2 separate regions of the Homo sapiens genome follow, and region 2 is linked to region 1. Evidence: fine-mapped expression QTL. A gene starts in region 1. The other region holds a variant in brackets. All regions are shown on one strand. Distances are from middle to middle.

The links. PIP is the estimated chance that this variant, and not a neighbour inherited with it, causes the effect.
Region 2: its variant is fine-mapped to the expression of UFL1 in whole blood (INTERVAL, PIP 0.95).

The regions. Positions count from the first base shown.
Region 1 is chr6:96,515,617-96,525,544 of GRCh38, reverse strand. UFL1 (UFM1 specific ligase 1) reads right to left here and starts at 3,739. Exons shown (of 19, transcript NM_015323.5): 1 at 3,595-3,739; 2 at 2,254-2,399; 3 at 1,135-1,163; 4 at 151-248. The coding sequence starts at 3,671. UFL1-AS1 (UFL1 antisense RNA 1) reads left to right here and starts at 3,831. Exons shown (of 4, transcript XR_007059687.1): 1 at 3,831-9,928. RefSeq lists enhancers at 2,407-3,278, 3,945-4,134, 3,279-4,150, 4,151-5,022, 5,023-5,896.
Region 2 is chr6:96,586,967-96,597,177 of GRCh38, reverse strand. All of the region lies in intron 1 of FHL5 (four and a half LIM domains 5), which reads right to left. Among named protein-coding and RNA genes, the nearest start is that of FHL5, 29 kb to the right of the region's middle. The variant T/C (reference allele first, on the strand shown) is at 5,197.

The DNA.
Region 1 (9,928 bases):
TAAGTGAAATAAACCTTATCATGAAAATCAACACTGTAAGAGTTATAAATGAAATGTCTAACTGGCCATAATTGGCCTAAATTTAAACACTATAAAAAAAAGAAAGAAAATAAACAAAGTGCTCTTAAATTTGTACTTTATTGTACTTACTCATCTATCAGTTGTCCCAACACTAACTGAACATGCTTTTCTGATTTAATAATGTCACCAATTCTATTTTCAATATGAATCAGGTCCACATTAATTACCTGGAAAACAAATACAAAATCTATTAATGATTAGTTTGTATTGTTTCTTAAGCTTGAAATTATATACTTAGAACTATATTTTTAAAGAAATTGCCGGCCAGGCATGGTGGCTCATGCCTGGATTCCAGCACTTTGGGAGGATGAGGCGGGAGGATCCCTTCAGTTCAAGAGTTTGAGACCAGCCTGGGCAACATAGGGAGACTCCCATCTCAAAAAAAAAAAAAGAAAGAAAGAAATTGCTTATTCTTAAATTTTGAATCAATCTGAAATAATACGAAAAGCATTGGCCAAATAAAAAATTAGAGGTGTATTGCTTAGTTATTTTCAGTTCTGAAGAATTAAACTGTCACTTGCTAGTAAGTTTATATAAAGCAGTAAATTACATATTCATATAACAGATAGCATTTTACAGAAAATTCGCTGGCTTCTTGTTTATAGTGTACCTTGGTAATGACATATATATTTGTATATTTTGAAAATAGCTTCTACTTTTAAAAATGTTTCTCTATTACTTTCATATACTAAAAACATATAAACATGAAACTGGTGACTTTTCTCCCAAAATGACATAAACTCTATACTTACATAAAATAACTATGAGTTCATTTGGTAAAAAGTTAAGAATAAGAAAGCCAACTAGGGAAGAGTTGGCCAACTCTTTAATAAGGCCAACTTATTAAATCATTTCAATAAATCCGAATTTATTAAATCATTTTAATGTATCAGAACTTGTTAAATCAATTCAGTGTATCAGCGAGGCTTATATAACTATTTCTTTATAAACACTACACAAAATATGATACCAGCATTAGTGAATACTTGAACAAATTCACAGTATCAAAAAATTGAGAAAGTAAAGCAAAAATTTTATAAATTTAAAACCTACCTGTTGTAGATCAACAATGTTTACTCGACCTTTGAAGAAAAGACATTCATTTATTTTAAATGATCTATGCGTACATACCAACCCAAAGCTATAAATTCTAACATTTAAGTTTTGGTCAAAGTCCTGCATAGAACAGAGAGCCAGAATAATCAATGTCTTCAAATACACACCATTAGCTGATGGCTAAGTCTTCATGGCTGAAGCCATAAGCAATAACTTACTTTCAATTTTTTTTTTTTTTTTAAATAACATCAGGCCAATTATGAGCACCAACTGGCACACAAATTGGCTCTATCTATGAAGGGTATTCATTTCCCTTCACAATTCAGAATTTATCTACTGTGATCAAAGAGATATTGACAACTAAATTAAGATGAACTTTTTTTCAATTATTTGATACTAAAAGGTAGGCTTCTACATATCAGCATAAGAAAATCTGTTAAGTAATTCAAATTATAGCTCATATTTTAAAGGTACTATGAAGGAAAATAGATAAATAAAAAAAGACAAAGACCAATGTTACACTCTGATAATATGAAGAGAGGCTTTCATAATTGCTTCTATTTTAATCAAATAGTATTCAAATATGCTTGGTAGTCTGTTCAAATTTTAAGAAGACAAAGGAAACCAACTTTGTGCGTGTTTTTAACAGCATTTCATACAATATGATTGGTGTAGCACCACACTGGATTGAGTTACCTAATTTGTAAGTACAAGTAAGCCTTAAAAAGAAATACAGCCTTGATTTTCAAAAATCTATAATCCTGTAAGATACTGTCCCCCTTCACAATTACCACCTAATAAAAGGCAGCTGAATACCCTTCCCTGAGTCATGCAATAAATTAATGAATTGTAAAAAGAAACAATTAATTCATGTATAGTACACATAACTCAAAATGATAAAATATTTTAAGTGACAACATTTGAGTTCATTTAAATTATATGACCATGTTTGCATGAACCCAGTAAAAATATTAAGCCTGATTATCAAATTAACAATTGAAAACGATATCTTACAATCTATAATTTAGTATGCAATTACATGTTTACGGGTTTTGTTTGTTTGTTTTGCCCCTTCCAAAAATCCAAGAAAAAAAAAAACACTAAAGAATTACCTACCACCTCGGACATGTAGCTCATCTCTCATTTCTTTACTAATTTGGGCTGGAGTAATATATTCCTTTCCATCGAGTGTATGAACTACTTCTAGCTGTTTCTGAGCAATCAATTTATTAACAATCTCAATGCAGTTCCGCTCGGACAACCTGAGGGAAAGAAAAAAAGTTGTTTCAAAAGTCCACTTGAGACATTGGCGCTCAATAAAATTAATACAATGTATGAAAACAGGCTTTTAAAAAGTTTGTTTAGTCACTAACTTCTACATCACAATATCTGTATTTTTCACTAACTGATTCAATAAGTTAAAAAAAAACCTTTCAGAGTAAGTAGGTTTACATATGCTTAAATCATTTATTTAATTGGTACACATCATCCCATCACAAATTTCAAGTCTGTTGTCTCTTACAGGCCTGCTTCCAATCTTCAAATCTGAAGGGAAAATTGAAGACATTTATTTAGGTAGGAAAAAAGAAAAAACAAAACAAAACAAAACAAAAAATGCCCTAATTTCCAGTTTAATCAGAATTTTCTTTTAAATTAAGTGCATAATTGCCTCACTTACACACATGGTCTGCAAGCAGGCAGGGGATGTGGCCTAGTGAAACCATAACTTTTACCCACGTTAGTTACCCATGCAGTTACGAGTTTGCTATCAGTGGTAGAAAATACAGCATAAGGGGATTGCTGTCTTCCGGCTCAAAAGGAATAAAACATCGCAGGTAGGAAGTAGTCAAAGAATAGAAAGGCTTCTATTAGCGTTATTTTTAAAAAGCAGAGTTAGGCTCCTCTGGACACATCCTCCAAAGGTTAGTGGGCTTGTAGAAAATGTCAGTGCCCTGAATAACAGATGGGGTCAGGGGTCTAGCCCTAGGTCTGTTACGAGAGATAAAAGGGCAAGAAGTTTTAAGGATCAACATACTATTTGCCAAGTACTGTACTGGGGGCGGGGGTTAGCCTCTCCTTTCGAGCTCATTCTAGATCAGGAAGTGTATAATAGCCAAGATGTCACAGTGATTTGGTGGTTGGTGGGTGAGGGAGGGTCAAAGAAATGCTCAATAAAGGCAGCTCGAAATCACCGGCCCCGTCCATGGTGGGGCGGGGCGCGCCAGCATTTCGCTGCAGCTGGGCTGGGGGGCTCCAGGGCGTCCTAGGCTGAGGACTTTCCCGCCGAGCCTTGGACTTGGAACTGCGATCCAGGCTCGGGACAGAGGGAGGAGGAGAGAATGGTGACAAGCAGCGAGAAGACCCGGGATGCAGGGCCGCGGGTCTAAAGTCCCAGATACAGGCGTGTCCGCCCACGGCCTAATTTGGGCTCCACAAAGGAGAGGGAGGGTCGGGCACCTCTGCGTGGCCTCGGCGAACTGCGCCCGCTGGAAGTCGGCCGCCAACCGCCTAATCTCTTCCCAGGCGTCCGCCATCACGGCCTGACTCGCAGTAGACGCGGAGGAACTGCAGACACGTCAGCCGACAGGCGGTGGGAGAAGAGAGGCGGAACGGGCCGCGCAGAGGGACAAGAGGCTCCGCCCCCGACGCAGACACACCAAACGCTTGCGCCCGAGGCGCGGGGGGCGGGCGGAAGTGCCGTGGTTGTACCGCGGCGCTGGGGGTTCCTCCCGGCGAGACTGGCGGGGCTGCGGCGGCTAGGAGAGTGGTGCGTAGGTGTTTCTGGGGGGGTCGTGGGCAGGATGCAGGGCTCAGTAAAGTTTAGTGTCAGAACTTTGTTTGCGCTACCCCTAATATTTCCGTAGAGTAATAGTTGTATTAACTACTTTTCTTTTTTCTTCTGTCCTCCATTTGTTTTGGGGGAGGGTGCGGAGGAATAAGCCTGTGTCTAAGATTGGCGCCTCTCTTCTCTAGCTGTTAACTCTGAGCATTCCCTTTTGTATAGGGTATCGTGTTAATTTTTACATGCACCCAGAGCAGTCTGCCTTTTGGAAGATACATGGGAGACCCTACCGAAAGTAATTACTTTTTTTTTACAGAGTGAATAAATTTGCGTGTCATAAAGGCTGTATAATTGCTTTCGTGTCTAGAGTTCTAGAGTCTTTCGTATTTCTCTTATTGCAATGATTAACTTCATCAAATAATGAGGAATATAAACATAAGGTGCATGGCTATCAAGGAAACAGGGAAAGCAAAGAGAACATGTATCCTGCTTCCCTGTTGAGTAGATATTTACTCAGGTGTACCTTTCTTTTTTATATCTTTTTTATATCTTATGAATTGAAAATAAATCATGGGACCCCCAAATCACTAAGCTAAAGGGAAAAGTCATACTGGGAACTGCTTAGGGAATCCTGCCTCCCATTCTATTCAAAGTCACCCCTCTGCTCACTGAGATAAATGCATGTCTGATTGCCTCATTTGGAGAGGCTCATAAGAGAATGCAACTGTCTGTTATCTACCTATGACTTGGAACTTCCTCCCCACTTGGAGTTGCCCCGCTTTTCCAGATCAGACCAATGTTTATCTTACATATATTGATTGCTGCCCCATGTCTCCCTAAAATGTGTAAAACCAAGCTGTGCCCCAGCCACCTTGGGCGCATGTTGTCAGGATCTGTGCCATGTCATGGATGCAAGTTCTTAACTTTGGCTAAATAAACTTTCTGAGTTGATTGTGACCTGTCTCAGATATTTGGAGTTCATGTATCTCACTCTTTACTATTTAAAAAATATTATTCCAGTTAGAAAGAATGAATAATATCAAGTATTTGATAGCACAGCAGGGTGACTAGTTGTCAGAGGCGTTTGAACTAGAGCAACTCCATCTTGAATAGGGGCTGGGTAAAATAAGGCTGAAACCTACTGGGCTGCATTCCCAGGAGGTTAGTCACAGAGTGAGATAGAAGGTCCACAGGCAGGAAAAACAAGTCATAAAGACCTTGCCGATAAAACAGGTTGCAGTAGTGAAGCCAACCAAAACCCACCAGAAACCAAGATGATGAATACAGTGACCTCTGGTCGTCTTCACTGCTCATTATATGCTAATTATAATTCATTATCATGTTAAAAGACACCCCCACCAGTGCCATGACAGTGTACAGATGCCATGGCAACGTCTGGAAGTTACCTTATATGGGTCTAAAATGGGGAGGAACTCTCAGCCCTGGGAATTGCCTACACCTTTCCTTGGAAAACTTGTGAATAATCCACCCCTTGTTTAGCTGTAATCAAGAAATAACTATAGGTATCCTTAGGCCAGCAGCTCAAGCCGTTGCTCTGCCTATGGAATAGCCATTTTTTTTTTCCTTTGCTTTCTTTATAAACTTGCTTCACTTTATGGATTTGCTTTCAATTCTTTCTTGTATGAAATCCAAAAACCTTCTCTTGGGGTCTGGATTGGGACACCTTTCCGGAAGTACAGTCAATAATAATTCAATTGTACATTTTAAAAAACAAAGTACAAGTGGATTGTTTGTAACACAAAGGAAATGCTTGAGGTAATGGATACCACATTTACCCTGATGTGATAATTACATGCTGTATGCCTGCATCAAAATATTTCATGTACTCCATAAATATATACACCTACTATGTACCTACAAAAATTAAAAACTAAAAAATAAAAATATTCCTTTTAATCATATATTGATAGAGTTGGTAAAGGGGAGCTATTTCAATTTCTTTTCCATCTAAGTACATTACTGTGGGCAACTCAAATCCAATGCCATAAACGTAATTGTCTATTAAATTCCCCAGCTTTATTTAAAAGACAGGAACTCAGTCATAAAACCTTCCACTAAGTACTGCTAGAAAATGACAATGGCTACCTGATTATGGACCAAGAGGGAAAACACCAGAAGTCAAAGAGGTAGTTTGGAAGGTGGTAGGTAGTGTGGTTCCAGAGAGCATCAAGCTTCAAAACAAGCAGAAACATTCATTCCTAAAACACATATTTATTAATTCTCTATCAGATGCCATGGAGCACAGTGGTGGATAAGGAAGACATGGTCTGGCCGTAACAATTTTGAAATCTAATGAAGCAGATTAAAAAGATAAGTACTTACAATAAAAGTGTGGAAATTCTAACAATAGGGGAAGTATAGGGCAGTATGTGATCACTTGGCAGCCAAACTTCTTGCTTCCTATGTAAGACTCTCACAGTCAGACTGGAGCTGCACATCTCTGCCGCTGCACAACACATGGAGAATAGTCTGCTGTATCCTAGCCTTGCCAAGCCCTTTCAGGACCCCATGTCTTTACTGGATTGCCTGTCCACTTCCCCACGCCCCCGACCCTCATCCCCGCATATTATTTTGTAACATATTTCTTCATGGTATCCCAGCTTTAAAGTCTTCAATGAAACCTTTTAAACTCCTACAGTTATTGTATATGTTGTGTTTCCACATTTCTTTATTTAGATGCCTCTAATAGCAAGAAAAGTTATATTGTAGTTTATTAACTTATTTACTGCATCTCTCAATATCCTGAGCTCCTAAAGGAACTCCTGAAAGTTCCTCAGCACTTAGCGTGACAACTAGTACATAGTACCTGCTGTATTCTATAAATGTCCTTTATGTGAGTAAGTCAGTGTAAATGTTTTGGTGCAGCATTATACTTTGGTAAAATAGTACTATGTTAATATTACTAACATTTACATTTATTCCTAAGAAAGGAAACCATAAGAATAATTCATGGTTATATTTTCTAGAGACTAGGCTTGTTTCGTCCAGTATGGTACTCAATAGCCATATAAAGCTATTTACATTTAAATTAATTAAGATTAAATACAATTGATAATGTGGTCCTTCAGTTGCACTAGCCACATTTCAGATTCTCAGTAGTCACATGTGCCTCATGGCTATCATATGGGATAGTTTAGAAAAACATCTTCGTCTTCACAGAAAGTTTTATTGTACAGCTCTGGTCTAGACCTTTGATGGGATGCACATTTGTTCAGACTCTGAGATCATATAACTTAAATATCTCCACCTAGCAACCATATACTCTAACTACATTTTCAGTTATTTTGAATGGGTAATAAGCATTTGAATGGAGGATATTTCAGTGTTGGCTGATATCTGATATTAAGTAGAGCTTTAATCAATACAGTGCATGCCTAGAATAATGGTAAGAATCCCAAGTGGCTATTTAATAACAGATGAGAGATTCTTTTGAAGAGCAAGCTTTGTGTAGACTTGGGAAATAGAATTTCCATTCTCTACAAAATATTGTAATAGTTGTGTTTGTGTCTACAAACTTAAGTTGAATTTTGATATGTAGATGATGGGGGAGGATTGATGGTGTCTTCAGCTGCACTCTGTACATGATTTGTGACACTATCCTTAGACTCACTTTAAAATATGAAGGGCAATAAAATATTGCCACATTTATAATTTGAATTGATGGCTACCCTGATAGCATATCAAGTGTGATCTGGTAAAGTTCCTCCATGATAAATTTTAAAAAAATAAAATTTGAAGCATTTTTTCCTTGTCTGTCAAGAAAATACAACTGTAAACTTTGAAATACTTTTCCTGGTTCAACTAGGAAAATAAAACTAAGTAACTACAATTGGGTATTGTCAAGCAAATCAGTATTCACTGTTTGTCACATAGGGAAATTACCAAGACATAGTGTTAATTGTGTCACTGACATTATCCTATTGTAATGAAGGATTTAAAAATTATTTTAATCCCATAATCAAAAATGGTAGTGAACATCCAAACATAGCAAATATTAGTGCCTTAGGAAAACACTATGATTCATGAGTAGAAGGAGAGGAAAAAGACCACTGAAAAAGAGGAAAGTAATTAGAGCAGCAAAAAATTATAGACGAAGGATAGTTAACAATAACTCTACAGAGTTAAGGACAAGGAAAATAATGCAGAACCACTGGCTATTACAGCAAAAAGGCTATGCCTTTTACTTTATTTATTTATTTATTTATTTTTAAAAATAGAGATGAGATCTTGCTCTGTTGCCCAGGCTGGTTTCAAACTCCTGGCCTCAAGTGATTCTCCCACCTTGGCCTCCTTAAGTTCTGATTTTACAGGTGTGAGCCATCGTGCCCAGCCAGGCTGTGACTTTTAACAGGGGATTGTTTCTTTTTTTCCTGCCATGGTTGCAATAGAAGTCAGATTGTAAGAGCATAAAGAAGCCATATTAGTGTGGAGACAAAAGTGACTCCACCTTAAATGCTAATCTGCTATAATGATTTTTGAGTATCCTCAGTCCCATGAATGCCTCCTGATTCCTACTTTATTTACTGTCCCTAGAGAAAGAACATGTCAATCTTGATGTTATCCCACAGTTTACAGACTATGATGAATATATAGCATTGTTGCCTGTTCTGGAGGATTGCCTTTAATTATCTTGCATAGAGAGCACTTATACCCTTTCACTGTAGTATATAAGCTCTGGGTTGGGAGGTAACAGGTTTAGAGATCTACCTGTCTTGCTGCTGCCCAAGACCACACTTCCGTCTGTAAGTTACCTCCATCACTGACAAACTGGATTTTTCTACCTCATTCTTTGATTTCTCAGCTCCTCTGGCATTTGGGGGGAACTTTGCATATATGGTGGCCCTTTCACAGAACAGTCAGCATTCTCCAGAGTAACAGAGAGATTATAGTAATTGGCCCATGTGATTATGGAGGCTGAGAAGTCCCATGATCTGCAAGCTGGAGAACCATAGAAGTTGGTGGTGTAGTTCAGTCTGAGTTTGAAGGTCTGTGAACCAGGAGTGCTGATGTCCGAGAGGAGGAGAAGATGGCTGTTCAGCTCAAGCAGAAAGCTAATTCACTGTTCTCTGCCTCTTTGTTTCATTCAAGCCCTCAAGGGATGGTATAATGCCTACCCAAATGGGTGAGAGCGTCTTTTTTACTCAGTCTACCAATTCAGATACAAGTCTCTTCTGTAAACACCTTCACAGACATACCCAGAAATAATGTTTTACCAGATATTTGGGCATCCTTTAGCCCAGTCAAACTGACACATAAAATTAACTGTCATAGAAGGACTACCTCGTTAGCAACTAAGAACAATGGGACTTAGAACAAAGACCTCATCAGGTATTAAATTGGAAGAAGATACATTAATGAAAAGAAATGTTATGGTACTGTTGAAGATGGAGGCAGCAAGACCCTCCGAGGCTATAGAAAAAATAGCGTAATAAACCCAGAAAGGCTCTTCAAGATATCTATGTTAGTGTTCTACCTAACACAGCAATAATTTCTTTGCAAAGCCCCTGGCAGATTATTTAGTTTTGCTTGGATCCTTAAGGTGATGAAGTGTTCCCTTTTTAGCAAGGTAAATGAATCTGTTTTTGGACAGATGTAACTCTTAGAAATTTCTTCCTTGTACTGCTAAAGCAAGGTCTGTTTCCCTGTAGCTTCCATATGGTTTCCTTAAGTGATAAACAGACTGACTGTAATATATCTTTCCTATGACAGCCCTCCAAATATCTGAAGTATGTCCCTCCTGTTTTCTTTTTTTAAGTTAAGCATCCCAGATACTTCAATTTATATCTCCTCACAAGATTGCCAGACCTCTTAATATTTTGGCTGCCCAATCAGAATAAAGTTGTTGAACTCTAGTTTGCCAGTGTCAATTTTAAAAAGTAATGTCCAGAAGGAATTTTGTATTTTGCATGTAGTCTGACTGGAACAGATAAGAGACAGTGAAATTAATTTTGTTAGATATTTTACACTTGTTAATTGGACTCTTGGCCT
Region 2 (10,211 bases), 71 kb before region 1:
TGCAGAGACTGTGAGATCAAGTGATAGAAGAATACAACCATGTATGAAGTCTTGGAATTCTGAGAAGCCAAAGACTGAGTCTTGTTTAAGGGTGAGTATGAAGTGGAAATGAGGAAAGGATGGAAGCATTTGGGGTATTCATGTTGGAGGTAATGATGGCTTGATTTAGAAAAGAGTATTGAGATCATGTGTGGGAGCAAGATGCAGTAGGACTTAAAAAGTGAATGCATCTGGGAGAGAGAGAGAGAGTCATTCTGAAATTTCATATACGGTTCCTGGTAGAATTAGTATGCCACTAATAGAAGACGGGAGTACAGGAAGAGAAACTAGTTGGAAGACAAGATTAACTCAGGTTTAGTTATATTGAATTTGAGGAACTAAACTAGATAGCCATCAAGCTGTATGTTCAAAATACTAGGCATCAAAATGTCATGTTAGATTAAGAAGTTTAGACTATTTTCCTGGATGAGCTAATTGGTAGTTGAGGAGCTACAATGGTAACTGAAGTTATGAGACTGAATGAGACCATCAAAGAAACCCTAGTGTAGAAAAGTGAAAAAAAAAGATAAAATACAAACTCACGGATAAATGCATGTTATGTGATGGGAAAGAGATGAAGCAGATATCGTGAAGGTCACAGTGTTTTCAAAGACAAAAGAAATGAGAACTACAAGAAGAGAATATATATTAATAACAATTAAGGAAAGTGTCAACAAGAAGGTAAATGATGTCTTCAAAAGAATAGTTTGGAGACACTAAATTGTCTGATGTCAGATTTCAGAGTTAAAATGTGAGTGACAAGATGCTCATTGCTGACAGCTTAGAAAATTGCATGTTCAAAAACACACGCCTAAGGAATAAAAAACGAACAAAATAAAATGTGTTGCCGAACTGGCAAGAAAGTAAGGGAAAATCTCAGAGGCTAAAACTAAAAAGAAAGCAGGAAACTAGAAAGGTTAACACTCTCTAAAGGAGCCATTTGTCCTGAGGATGTCTTCTGAGCCATGATGACCTTGTTATCCAAGTATTTACAGCCTGAACTTATACTAACTGTAAGGTCTAAAACTCTTAGGTTTTAGTTTAAAAGGCTTAGTTTAAAATGAAACACAAGAAAATCCTCTATGAAAGAATGTCCCATCATCCTAGGCCTAAAAAAAATCATACATATAAATTTTCATTGAGCATGAATTCACAATTAAAATATTTAAAATAAGAATAAGCAATGAAAACAAGCAGTATAAGTAAAAATCCAGCAAAGAAAATACTTGGATCACCAACAAAACAATTTCACATGAGAAATAACAGATACAAAATGGAAAATAATGTTTAACATATTTAAAGACATAACAGAGAGCATTATATAGAAAAATTCAGGAGAATAAAAATGACTAGGCAGATTTGCAACAGAACTGATAGAAATAAAAGAGATAAAAACTTATCATTAAAATTAAAACAGATTAAAATGCAGATTAGAATCAGTTGAAGGGAAAATTAATAAACTTGGAAATAGAACTAAAGATATACTATAAAATACAATGAAGAAAGAAAAAGAGATAGAAAATATATCAGTTAAAAAGAAAGTAGAAGATAGAGTAAAAGAATTTGACCTAAGTCTTTACAGAATTTCAAAAGAAGATAATAGAGAAAATGAGAAATATGCAAAGGTTGGAGATAGAATTGAATTTCCAAGAATTAATGACATTAATATACAGATGCAGAAAGTAAAACAAATTTCAGGCATCATAAAAACAAACACATCATAGTAAAGATGTCATATTCCAGAGACAAAGATGATCTTAAAGACATTCAAAGAGAAAAAAAAATGTCTAAAACACCAACAATTAGATATGCAGATAACTTCTAAACAGCAACAATAGAAACCAGAAGAAACTGAAATAATGCTAAGAGAAAATAAGTAAACTCTAGACCTGTATACTCAGTGAAGCTTAATTTAAAGAATAGGATGACATAAAAACATATTTAAGTTGACAAAAGCTATGTTTACTACCAAAAAACCTTCACTGAAGGGAATTCTAAAGAATGTGGTTTGAAAAAAAAGAAAGAAAAAAAGGAAACTCTCTAACGGAAGGTTTAGGAAAACTGAAGACAAAAAGAAAGAATAAGGAGCAAAGACCTCGACTAACATGCAGTTACACAAAAATAAACATTGACTGTATGAAAAAACAATAATAATTTGTGGGGTTCAAAAACACATAATAATACTAATGTACTGGGGAAAATAGCATTTAAGTGAGGAAAGAGTTGATTGTTAATCCTTGTATTGCTGGAAAAGAATACATTAACTGAATTACATTAAGATTAAGCATTCTCATGTTAAAATTTTAATAATAAGTCATTAGATTTGTTAAATTTTAATGGAAAACTCTAAACATAGAAATAGAAATAAGTAAAACAAAATTATTTCATAGAAAGTACGTAGGAAAAAGAAAACTAGAAAACTGAGACATCACAAAAGAAGAAGATATATGATACATTTTAAACCCAAATCAAACCAAATGAGTGGTTAAACTTTCTTGGTTGAAAACCAAAATATTCCAAAGATGATCCAAAAGTAACTGTCAACATCTGCAACCAATCTGAGTTCAAATCCCAACAAATTCTTGTCAGCTTCAACCAAAGATTAGATGAAAGGGAAATATAGTTTTCTTTAATACTATTTGAACCCAGAGGTCGGCCTAATTTAATATTTTTGTTAACTGTAACTCAGCACAACACTTGACAGAAACTAAAAGTTCTGCCCCTTGACCTAGCCATGTGACAAGAAAGGAGTGCATCCTCTGGGGGTAAAACAAAATGAAACAAAAATTGTACATGTGTATTTTGTTCCAATGTTTGGCAGGCAAAAAATTATAAGACACCTCAAGAAGTAAATACATACATACATATATATATATATATATATATATATATATATATATATATATATATAAATTCTAATATTTATTGGATCCTTTTCCAGTTCTTTCATTTTTCTGCTGAAATCATTTATACATTCACTCATTCTGTTCATTTCCTTCCAAATATTTAACATAAGTATAATAAAGTCCCTGTGGGGGCTTATGTTTAAAAATATTTGTAATAGAGAATTCAATGGATAAGATTATCAGCAGACTGAAAAAAGCAAAAGTAAAAATCAGCAACCTTGAAATGAAACAAACTAATGCATAAAGAGAAAATTCACTAAATGAAGATAATAGAAATAATTTTTCCCCAAAATAAAATTGTTGAAAGACTTCCAGTCCAATAATGGTACTCTGTATAATTCAAACCATGAGGCTGCTGTGAACCACTAGAGAAGCTAGTACTTAAAAAGTGTACTTAAAAAGTGTAGCTTGGAGGCATCAGAGAATTAATATTACAGTGAAGAATAGGCAAAGTCCAAAGGAAGGAGAAAAGCGTAGATGAGCTTGGTATTTGCTTTCCACAGAAGAATATGTACATCCAAAAAGATAAAATGAATAGTCTGAGAAGCTGTATGGCACTTCTGACAGCCTAGAAAGGCTAAGGGGACAAAGATTGAGGTCAATGGACCTTCCATGTAGCAGGCCTGGTAAGCTTATCATTGTGTAGGTGATATTTCCAAAGAGCTATGCCCTTGGAGTAACGTAAATTAGAAGTAAACTAGTATTTCAGAGATGGAAGCCCAGCTTTGAATTACCTCAGTTTCTAAAATTATATTAAGATAACCTTGGAATTCTGGTATCCCTAGGTGAACACCAGAATAAATACACATCCTGTCTGAAGGAAGAAAACATCATCTTAGGCCTCAATTACTTCTACACCAATGTCTAGCACTAAACAAAAATGACCATGTTCAGAAGAAGACAAGGGAATATAAAGAATAGAAACATACATGCAGGAAGCCATAGATTTTGGAGTTATAAGACAGAACATAAAACTATCCTTAATATGTTCAAGGGGGTAAATAAAATAAGGAGCAAAAATTTTGCAGAGAATTAAAAACAATGAAAAAGAATGAAATGTAAATTATAGTACAGAAATATACAATGATTTAAATTAGGGACATAATGGGAAATTTTAGAAAAGATTGTATGAAATGAAAAAGATGATAAAATAGAAAATAAAATTAAGCATGATGATAAAAGGTATAAAAAGTACAATTAAGAAAGTAAGAAACATAGATGATAGAATGAGAATGAGAAAAGAGAAAAATATACAAGTTGTATTTGAAGAAACAATGGCCCATCTTCCAAAACTGACAAAATACATGCCCCAAATTTTAAAAACCAAGAAAACATGAACCTCAACTGACCTGAAAAACACACTTGGACACATCAGGGTACAACTACTAAAAACGAAAGACAAATAACATATCAAAAGTAGATTATAAAATGTTGCGGGAAGTCAGGGACCCTGAACGGAGGGACTGGCTGAAGCCATGGTGGAAGAACATAAATTGTGAAGATTTCATGGACATTTATTAGATCCCCAAATTAATACTTTTATAATTTCTTATGCCTGTCTTTACTGCAATCTCTAAACATAAATTGTGAAGATTTCTTGGACACTTACCACTTCCCCAGTCAATACCCCTGTGATTTCCTATGCCTGTTTTCACTTTAATCTCTTAATCCTGTCATCTCGTAAGCTGAGGAGGATGTATGTTGCCTCAGGACCCTGTGATGATTGCATTAACTGCACAAATTGTAGAGCATGTGTGTTTGAACAATATGAAATCTGGGCACCTTGAAATAAGAACAGGATAACAGCAATGTTCAAGGGAATAAGAGAGATAACCTTAAACTCTGACCGCCAGTGAGCTGGGCGGAACAGAGCCGTATTTCTCTTCTTTCAAAAGCAAATGGGAGAAGTATCACTGAATTCTTTTTCTCAGCAAGGAACATCCCTGAGAAAGAGAATGTGCCCCTGAGGGTGGGCCTCTACAATGGCCCCCTTGGGTGTGGCCATCTTCTATGGTCAAGACTGTAGGGATGAAATAAGCCCCAGTCTCCCATAGTGCTCCCAGGCTTATTAGGACGAGAAAATTCCCACCTAATAAATTTTGGTCAGACAGGTTGCTCTCAAACCCTGTCTCCTGATAAGATGTTATCAATGACAGTGGTGCCCGAAACTTCATTAGCAATTTTAATTTTGCCCCGGTCCTATGGTCCTGTGATCTCGCCCTGCCTCCATTTGCCTTGTGATATTCTATTA[T/C]CTTGTGAAGTACCTGATCTCTGTGACCCACACCCTATTCGTACACTCCCTCCCCATTGAAAATCCCTAATAAAAACTTGCTGGTTTTACAGCTCAGGGGACATCACGGAACCTATCGACATGTGATGTGTCCCCCAGATGCCCAGCTTTAAAATTTCTCTCTTTTGTTCTCTGTCCCTTTATTTCTCAAACTGGCTGACACTTAGGGAAAATAGAAAAGCACCTACATGAAATATCGGGGGTGAATTTCCCCCCGATATCTGGCTGAATTTCCCCTGATAATAAAATATTACTTTCAGATTAATAACAAATTGAGGATACCTACTTCTCAACAGAAAAAAAAGGAAGCTAGACAATGGAGAGATATATTCAAATTGCTGAAAAAAATTAGCAGCCAACCTAGAAGTCTATGCCCAGGTAAAAGATCTTTTGACAATGAAGGTAAAAGCATTTTCAGGCCATCAGAAACTAAATTTATTAATCATCCACCCACGTTAAAATAATACCAAACAGTGTTCTTTGGGCAAAAGTACACATTGGAGATCACAGGTGCGGAAAAGAGTAGGGAAAAAATGAAAACCGTAAACATGTAGATGAATCTATGTAAATCTGACTATGTACAACAACCCTGTGTCAAAGAATTAGAAAATTTAGGTAAAATGGAAAAATCTAAAATAAATAAAACTATTAAAATTGACACAAGAAGAAATAAAAAATTATGACAACTATTAGATAAGTTGAATTTGTAATTAAAAAGGCTACATACAGAGGGAAATAAAGCCAAAGTGGCTTTACCAGTGAATTTTGCCAAGCTTTAAAGAAGAAATAACAGCAATCTCACACAAACCAAATCAAGTAAGTACAAACAGAGAACATGCTCTGGTAAATTTTGAACTCATTAACACTTTGGTATCAAAATCTAAAATCATTATGAGAAAGGAAAACTATAGGTCCATAATACTTCTGACAATAAATACAAAACCCAAACCCAAATAACAAGCAACTAAATCCAGTGATATATGAAGAGATTAGTATATCATGATCAAGTTGATTTCATTTTAGGAATGCCAAGTTCAGTTTAAAATTCAAGAGAATCACTGTGTTTCAATAATTTTACCAAGTAAAAGTGAAAGCTGTAAAATTACCTCAGCAGCTGCAGAAAAGGCATTTGATAAAATCTTACTTCAATTTATGATTAAAAACTCTTAACAAACTAAAAATGAAAGAAACTTCTTCAATGTGGTTTAAAAAAACCTATAGCGAACACTATACTTAATGGTAAATGTTGATAGCTTTTACTCGGATTATAAATAGGAAAAGAATACCCACAATCACCACTTCTATTCAGCTTTATACTGGAAGCCATAGATTTTGCAGTAAGGTGAGGGAAAAAAGTACAAGAGTTAAAAGGAAACAAACTCATTATTTGCTGATGTTCTAATTGTGGAGAAAATCAAAAAAATTCTATAATACCTGATTAGAATTTACAAGTTAGTTATTAGAGTTGCTCAGTAAAATGTCTATATATAAAAATCAATTGTATTCCTATTTAACAATAACAAACAGTGAAATGAAAAAAAATCATTTATGATATTTAAATTCCCTGAGAAACCTAATAAGAATGTATGAGCTCTCTACATAGAAAATTATAAGACTTTGAAAGAATAAACAGAAAACCAAAATAAATACATGGAAGGAAAATACCATGCTCTTAGACTTGAAGACTTACTATTGTGAAGGTATTATTTCCCCTTCATTTGCCCTATAGATGCAAAATAAAATTCCATCAGGTTATTTTTTTACAAGCTAATTCCATAACTTATAAAGAAATGCAGAGGGCCAGGAATAGTGTAATCACCTTTGAACAAGAACAAGATTGGAAGACTTGCTAAGTCAGATATCAAGACATTATAAAGCTACTATAGTGGATGGTATGGTATAAACACAGGATTAAATACTTAGATCACCAGAACAGAATAGAGAGCTCAAAAGCAAGTCTATACATATATAACACATGACCTAAAGGACAGTGAGGAATAACGAAGAATAGGAATGGTCTTTTTAGTAAATGGTGTTGGGTCAATTGTATTTATTTCCATATGAAAAAGAATGAAACTAGATTACTACTTCACATGACATATAAAGATTATTTCCAGGTGAACCATAGATCTCAGTGTTAGGACAAAGCAATAATCCTTTGAGAATATAAGAGAATGTCATTATAAACTTGTAATGTGAAAGGTTTCAGAAATAAGCCAGAAAATATGCTGGCCATGTAGAGAAAATTTAATACACTAGACTAAATTAAACTTAAGAACTTCTGTTTCTCAAAAAACACAAATAAGAGTAAAGAGAGAGCCAAAGAATGTATTGCAATTCATTAATTAACAAAGAAGTCATATCCAAAACATGTGAAGAAGTCCTACGAATCAATAAGAAAAAAAATGGACCACCCAATAAAAGTACAAAAGACTTGAACAGATACACAGAGGAGGATAACCAGCTGGCTAATAAACATGAAAATGTTCTCAACTTCATTAACAACCACTGAAAGATAATTTAGCAAGTTCCTTGATACAAGGTCAATATAAAAATATCAGCAAAATTCCTACACATCAGAAATACAATGTTAAAAAAATACAATATTCAAAAGCAATGGAAATTGTACTTGTCTTAAATGTAACAAGATGTATCTGAAACTTTAATATAGTGGAAGAATTTGTTGTAAACAATATAAGAACTTGTCATCATTAAGGCAGTGTAGTATTGAAACAGGATAAACCAAAGACCAATGGAGGAGAAGAGAGAATCAAATCAGATCTATGCATATATGAAAATGTGATATGTCAAAAATGGTAGTTTAGAGGGGGAAATAATTATTTAAGAAATGATACAGAAATAATTGGTTATTTACATGGGAAAAATTAAATTGAATCCATACTTCATACCATACTCAAAACAATTCCATCATCAATATGAAAGGCAAGTCTTTAAAATATGGAAGTAAATTTCTATGATCTTATGATCATATGTTAGGAAAATTTTTTTAAAAAATATGAAAAACACAAACTGTAAATGAAAAGGTTGTTACTTTTTTTTTAAAAGAATTGCTCATTAAGAGACACTATTTAAAGAATGAAAAGACAAGCCACAATATAACAGATGATATTTGCCACACAAGTAACTGAAAGAGAGTTAGAAAACAAAATATATAAAACATTCCTGTGAATCAATAAGTGAATTAAAAACAAGCTAATGGAGACTGTTTTTCCATTAGCTTGTTTTTAATTCACTCATAATAAGCAAATATTTTCTTTTGTAACTGGAAAATATTTATTTTAAAGAAAGCACAACCTACTCTTAATCAGTGAAATTTAAATAGATCTGTTCAACAAACCAAAATGAACTGCATTTATACTCACAAAATATGAAAAGAATGCTGACAATATCAAATGTTGGTGAGGACAAAGAAATAACAGGAGGCCAGGCGCAGTGGCTGATGCCTGTAATCCCAGCACTTGGGAGGTTGAGGCAGGTGGATCACCTGAGGTCAGGACCAGCCTGACCAACATGGTGAAACCCCGTCTCTACTGAAAATACAAAATTAGCCAGGCATGGTGGTGCATGCCTGTAATCCCAGCCAGTTGGGAGGCTGAGGCAGGAGAATTGCTTGAACCTGGGAGGTGGAGGTTGCAGTGAGCCGAGATTGTGCCATTGCACTCCAGCCTGGGCAATAGAGTGAGACTTCGTCTCAAAAAAAAAGAAAGAAAGAAATAACAGGAACTCTTACGTGTTGAAAATAAGTATGCAAAAATGAATGGATAAAATCACTTTGAAAAACAATTTTTCATTACATTGTAAAATTGAACATATACCTTTCATGTGACTCAACAATTTCACCCCTAAGTGTGTAAATTTGAGAGAAACTTTCAGCGATGATGTGGAACAATGCTCACAGCCACGGAGTTTATACTAGCCATAGCAAAAAAGTCTGAATGTCCATCAAGGGAAAAATGGATAAATAAGTAGATGTGTGGTCACACAACATATTGTCATATGGCCACAAAAACAGATGACTTACAGGTACCCTCCTTAATGCAGAAGAACTTTACAATATTGAGTAAACAAGCAAGTTGTAGAGAGTAAATATACCAGAATGACATTTATATAAAGTTTAGAACAGCCAAAGTTTATTATTAGGAATTATGAATATGTGCTTTTATTTTTAAAAAGCATAGTGATGATTAACAAAAAATTCAGGATGCAATATAAGATTATCTAATTTTCATAGTTATTAAAATAAATTGGGATGTTGCACAACGGGTTTCAAATATAAAGGGGATGTTTTCTTTGTTAAGCCAATTTGTTATTTCTTACAGTTTGTGTATATGTTATGAATACTCTTTTCTATATAAGGAGACTTCAAAAAGTTAATAGAAGTGGAATTAAGAGATAAAAATTAAAAATATAAATTTATTTCTCAACATAAGCTCCATCAAGTTTGACACTTTTGTAAGTGATGATATCAGCCATATAATCCATTCCTAAAGAACTGAGGATCCTGGGAATTTAACCATGTAAATGTAGTCTTTTTACATAAGTAACTGAAGAAAAATAGGTGCCCTTTAAGGACTTTTTTAAGATTAGGAAACAAAAGGAAGTCAGAAGGAACCAAGTCGGGACCATAAAATGGTTGCCTAATAATTTTCCATAGAAATTCTCACAAAATTGCTCTTGTTTGATGAGAGAAATGAGCAGGGGCATTGTGAAGAACTCTCTGGTGAAGATTTCTTGTGCGTTTTTCAGCTAAAGCTTTGGCTAACTTTCTCCAAACACTCTGATAATAAACAGATGTTATTGTTCTTTGGCCCTCCAGAAAGTCAACAAGCAAAATGCCCTGAGCATCCCAAAAAGCTGTTGCCATGACCTTTGCTCTTGAATGTTCTCCTTTGGCTTTGACTGGACCACTTCCGTCTCTTGGAGGCCATTCCTTTGATTGTGCTTTGTCTTCAGGA